Linked DNA regions of Homo sapiens: region 2 is linked to region 1. The links come from fine-mapping of genetic effects on gene expression. A gene starts in region 1. The other region holds a variant in brackets. All regions are shown on one strand. Distances are from middle to middle. Region 1 holds the start of TBL1X (transducin beta like 1 X-linked). Region 2 overlaps TBL1X (transducin beta like 1 X-linked).

Region 1 (2,902 bases):
ACACGAGGCCTTGCAGGGAGCGAGCCCCGGCCCCGGTCTGACGGAACACAGGCGACGCACGTGAAGTCCAGGCCCTATCCCAGCGCAGGCGGGCCTCCAGCGACCCACAGTTGTCACATATCCGGCCAGCGCCGACTCCCGAAGGCGCACTCCCCATACTCCACTCCGAGCACCGGTCCCATCGTTAGGGAAGGTCCCCCTGGATAGCAAGGCCGGGGCCCAGGATCTGCGAGACCCACCCCACCCGCCCCGTCAGAGCCCAGGAGCAGCAACAGGTCTGCGCTCTCCCCGGGCGGCGCTCTGCAGACCCTCGACGGGCCAAGGGTGCCCCCAGCCCAGCCGTGCGCTCAGGCCGGGGAGATGGGCGGAGGACTGGGGCTCCCGACTTCCTTGACAGTTTCTGCGCGTCAGAAACTGAGCAGACACGGGGCCCGCGCCACCTCGCCCGCCGCTTGCCCCACTCCGCGAGGCTGCGCTTCCACCCGGGTCCGGGAGGGCCGGCCCGCGTCCCGGGTATGAATGGGGCTCTTCTCCCCAACAGCGGGGAAATCCCGCCACCGCCCTCCACCCCGGTCCCCGGAGCCCGCGGTGGCGCAGGTTTGCCCAGCAAGCCCCTGAATCGGCAGACAAAGGGGCACCGGAGGAAAAGCCGAGCGCTTCCCTAAACTTACCGGCCACTTCCCCCTCCCCAAAACAAAGGAGCCCCCCGCCGACCTCCGTCTCTCCCCGCAAGGCGCGCCGGCACTTCGGGGAGCGGCCACCTCGGGGTATTGTTCAGGCTCCTGGGAGCGCGCCGCACCCCAGTCCGAGCGCCGCGGGGACAGTTGGCGACCTGCACCTACAGGAGTTCCAGGGGCGGGTGGAGCGTTCGGGCGCCCCGAGCCGCCGGCCGGACCCTGGAGGGTCAGCGCGGGACCCGCCTCCCCGCAGAAGTTTGCGGACCCCGCGCCCGGCCCGCCGAGCCCTGCGCACTCACCTCGTCGCGAGCAGCGCAACTTGTGGCGGCGCCGCGCGCCCGGCCGCGCTCCGAACCTCCCTCCAGCCGGCAGCCTCCGAGTCCCGGCCGTGCGGCGGCCGAAGAGGGCCCGGCGCCCCGGAGCAGCCGCGCGCCGCCCCCGGGCCGCCCCCGCCCCGCCGCCGCCGAGTCCCGGAGAGAGCGCGGGCGCTGGAAAGTTTCGGTGGCGAATGGCGGCCTGAGGGCGCTGCGGCGGCGGCGGGGCGGGGGCGCTGGCGGCTCCTCGCTCCCAAGCGCGGAGTGGGGGCGCTGAGGCGGGCGCGGCGGCGGCGGCGGCGGCAGCGGGAGAGGGCGGGACAGCGGGAGGGACTGGCACGGACAGTGACCTCCACGGGGAGCTGCCGCGAGCGCGCGGACCCCAGCCAGGAGGACCGCCAGGGGTCCGCCCCCGCCGCCGGCCCCTCCCTCACGGCCGTGGGAGGGGACCCGGCGTACCACCCGGCCCCGCCCCTGCGCCCCGGGGGAGCCGCGTCCCGAACCAGCCCCTCCCCTACGAGGGTAGGGACTCCGGCCCTGCCCCTCCCCCGCGGCTCCTAGTGGGGACCCGCGTCCCAACCCAGCCCCTGTCCCACGGTCGGGGGACCAGCGTCCCTACCAAGCCCGCCCCGCTCCCCCACGCCTAGGGTGGGTGAGGGGAACCCGGGCCTCTCCCTAGTTGCTCTGGTCCCGGTCCCTTCCCCGTGGCCTCCGTGGGACTGAGAGGACCCCAGGGCTACCCCCATCACATCCCAAACCCAGCCTTTCCACGACTGCCTCGAGGGGACGGGAACCTCGGCCACCCCCTCAGTTTCTAGGGGGCAGGGGAACCTCGATCACTGCTAAAGTGTTACCCTCCCCCACCCCAAAAAGGAAGCCACCCGGCTGCCCCAACAGAACCCCCTGCCACCTGCCCGATGGTGAATCTCCCTCAAAATCGGCGTCTTAGAAGACACCCCAGTAGTCTTTACCCCAGCTCAAAAAGTGGGGGTTCCGGCGGAGCCTCGACCTTTGCAAAACACCTCCCAAGAAGAGCCAGAAATGCTTAGGGACAAACTCAGACACACAGGCATAGGCGCCAGGAACTCGGGTGTGGGGGCTGAGGAGGTTGGGGGGACCTGGGCACTCGGGCCTCATCACTCCCACCCCAACCCCCCAGGCATCAGCCCTCTGGCCCTTGCAAAGTGCTTTATGTTGCAATGGCTTACACGGCCTGGCCCCGGTGTACCTAAGTCCCCAGCGCTCCTTCCTCCCCTCCACGTAGGCTACTCCCAACCACTCGCAGCCTTAATTCAGTTAAACAGATCTCCACTCCCCCTCCCCAGCACCTCTGGGGTCAGCCTCGTTGAATATTTTTCAAATATTCTTGCCCCTTCCTTTACTATATAATGAGCTTCGTGCTAAGAGCCCGGTACACTCAGCAATCTAAACTATAACCTCACTTGCTCTTCCTCGAACTCTAGACCATTTGTTGTTCTGGTTGTAGGGGGAGGGGGACCTAAGGTGAGGTTTTTGTTTTTTTGTTTTTGTTTTTGTTTTTCTGAGGAGTCTCGCTCTGTCGCCCAAGCTGGAGTGCAGTGGCGCGCTGTCGGCTCATTGCAACCTCCACCACCCTGGTTCAAGCAATTCCCCTGCCTCAGCCTCCCGAGTAGCTGGGATTACAGGCGCATGCCACCACGCCCAGCTAATTTTTTTTGTATTTTTAGTAGAGACGGGGTTTCACCATATTGGCCAGACTGGTCTGAACTCCTGACCTCAGGCAATCCGCCGGCCTCGGCCTCCCAAAGTGCTGGGATTACAGGCGTGAGCCACCGTGCCCGGCCGGAGGTGAGTTTTTAAGAGGCCGGTCCTCCACCAAAACGGCGGACCTCAAAATTACCCTGCAAAATATTGCTGTAAAACGTCAATGAT
Region 2 (2,902 bases), 250 kb before region 1:
GGAACATTTCTGCATTTGACAAGAAACATAAGCTTTTTTTTTTTCTTTTTTTAAATGGCGGAACAAAAGGTTAAAAAACAGAAAAGCAACAAGAACAAAGCAGACCCTTACATTTGACAAAGTGCACTTCACTTGGCTCCATGATCTATTTCTTAGAAAGACTAAACAAAAGTCAAGTCCTACGGTGTCGCGAGGGGTCAGAGGGTTTCACCCTGTAACGTCCGGCCCTTTTGGTCCCCCTTGGGGCAGCATCCCTTTCCCAGGTGTGTGCTGGACCTGACTCTCGGTCACTGTGAACCCGACCAAACACTCTAGGAAGGTCTGTCATGCTATGTCTGCTTTCAAGGTCACGTTTGGTCACTAAGACTTAGGCATTCCTCACCATGTTTTAAGAGCTGTAAACAACGTTGAACAATAACATTCCACAGGCCATTTCTTGATTACAGGGATGACTCTACCAACATGCCAGCAGCAGAGAGGGTGAGTAGTGGTGTGCAAATGCTGGAGGCTCTGAAAACGGCTGTCCATGGTGTTGTCCCGCTGAGAACGGGGATGGATATGAAGGGTGCTAGCTGCATCTCGCGCTTGGTTTTGCTTGCGGCCGCAGGCTGGGGAAGCCAGGGATGGAGCCTGGGGTCCGAGGCCTCCCAGCCCAGGTTTCTACCTAACAATTCCGACATGGTTCACATTCATCAAGACTAAAGCCATCCCTCGGGAGAGACCCTGGCTACCGACATTCATGTGAAGATTGTCTAGTGAATTGCTTGCGACACATCCCACCATCGCCATCCCACAGTTGTTACTGGTTTGTCAAGCATAAGCCATGCCCTAACGACAGGCTGGCCTTTGACAGCAGATGTTCTACAGAGATGAGTGCATTTTTATTTGGGTGGGGTAGAGATGGTGTCTTTTGGACCCCAACAAACTGTACTCTAAACTTCACAGAGTCCTTGGGACGGGAAATCATCACCTCATCCAGGGACACTGGCTATCTTCAAAGATGGGTGCGGCGACTCCACATCACTGTGACCTTCTTTGCTAAGTGTTTCGGAAACAGAACACGAATAAAATACTCATCTCAGAACCAGAGCACTTTTTGGTCTTCTGGGACATGAATAATTCACATACCCAAGTGGAGGCCAATCAATGATCTGAGAATGATCAACGCACCCTGGCTTTTGCAGGTGGTCCTGGCACGTTCCAAGTTCCACAGAAGCCCTGACCCTTCCCCGATGGCTGGGTTTTGGCTCCGCAGATGAATGCCACCTTCACAATAACACCGTCTCACTGCTGGAACACACACCAGATTGCACCCTACCCACTGCTGGTGACCCAGCAGCCCCCACGGGCTGGGCCATCTTCCTCAGCCCTTCTGCCCACA[G/C]GAAAACCAATGGGAGAAGAGGCCCTTGTCCTTTGGCCTTTTCCCCCTTGCTAATGACAAAAATAAGTCCGTGTCGGGTTATGACAGCAAGCAGATGGAGGTCACCAGATTCACTGAAATGAAGCTCTTCTAGGAACACAAAGCCTTGTTTAATTTTTTAAAAACAGCAAAAAGATTATTTAAAAAAGATCTTTCTCCTAGTCTTCTGTGAGACAAAGAAATTATAAAGATGGCAGAAATTATTAGCGACGTTCTACCTCTATAATTCACGTTCAGGACTGAAAATCTTCCTTCTGCATTCATTTCTGTCAGCGTTAGACTAAGTGACATGCGGGCGCCTCTATGTCAGCTCTGCAAGGACTCGCCAAGCCTGCTCTTGGAGAAATGACCATCGGTCGTTATACGGTTGTGGGAAAGATGTAGCCAACACGCCTAATCCAGCCGAGCAGTCGGTTTCGACGGCTTCTGCAGTACCTTATGGTTCTGCCAATGCTCCCTTGAGGCCAGAGGGCGCGCGGCTCTTCGCTGCTTTCCTGCTGGCTGCCAAGGTGCATACACACCAAAAGATGCGAGGTTCTTCTTCCAGCCGGCATGGCGGGGACCTCCCTCACTGGCTGCAGAGCAATCTCGCTGCTGACCCCGAAGACTGACCCTTGTCCAGCCAGAGTTTTCCTGACCACCTTTCCTGAGGCTGAGGGGAAAGCCAGGGGCTCCCTCAGGCCCTGCCTGTGGCTTCTTCGGTTCTTTTTAAAACATGAATCACACAAAGCTCTCTATGTCTGATGGCCATTTTAAGATTTTAAAATTGTTTTAACATAAAAATATTATTTTTTTTTCCAAAAATACTCCAGGCTCTTTCTCTTATAAGTCATTTTTTTTTCTCCTGTAAAAAGCCCCCCTGCCCTGCCTTCTTACATAAAGCACTTACTACGCGCCAAAGTGCCCTTGAGACCTAAGATCTGAAGCAACTATGAGAAAGGTACAGAGGGAGAGAGAGAGAGAAAGAGAGCACGCCAGTGAGAAAGCGAGCGCGAGCGCGAGCGCAAGGGGAGGAGAGGGTGGGAGAGGGCGGAAGGGGGAAAGCTGTCCGTGGGAGATTGTGTCTTCATGTCCACGGGGCTGCATCTCTTGATGGTGCACTGAAAAAGCAGAGCTCACCAGACAGAGTGGAAAGGCAGGGGGAGGGGCAGGGAGCAACAGAAGGAAGAGACAACAAGCCCAAGACAGCTTCCATCTCAGACGGAAGGCCCCCAGAAGATAGAATTCCAGCCGACTGAAAAACCACCCAATGAACAAAGAAGATTCTAGAAAATAGAAAGTGTTGGGATTACAAAGTTGCGCGTTTCATCGGTACAAACTGGTCTTTGAACCTCCTTTGTGAGAGCAATTGTAGTGTCCAAATTGTTAGGGAAAACAAAAAAAAAAAATCCCAAGGAGGAGGGTTTTTCCCCCTTCCCTGTTTGGTTTATCACAGCATTTTGCTTTTTTTTTGGCACAGCTTTTTACGTTTCTTTCCATTCA

The links.
Region 2: its variant is fine-mapped to the expression of TBL1X in whole blood (TOPMed, PIP above 0.99).

Annotation. Positions count from the first base shown.
Region 1 is chrX:9,463,522-9,466,423 of GRCh38, reverse strand. It overlaps TBL1X (transducin beta like 1 X-linked), which reads right to left and starts at 1,366. Exons shown (of 18, transcript NM_005647.4): 1 at 977-1,366. RefSeq lists silencers at 391-540, 841-980, 1,101-1,680 and enhancers at 1,911-2,110, 1,938-2,766.
Region 2 is chrX:9,716,566-9,719,467 of GRCh38, reverse strand. TBL1X (transducin beta like 1 X-linked) reads right to left here. Exons shown (of 18, transcript NM_005647.4): 18 at 1-2,902. Among named protein-coding and RNA genes, the nearest start is that of GPR143, 48 kb to the left of the region's middle. The variant G/C (reference allele first, on the strand shown) is at 1,382.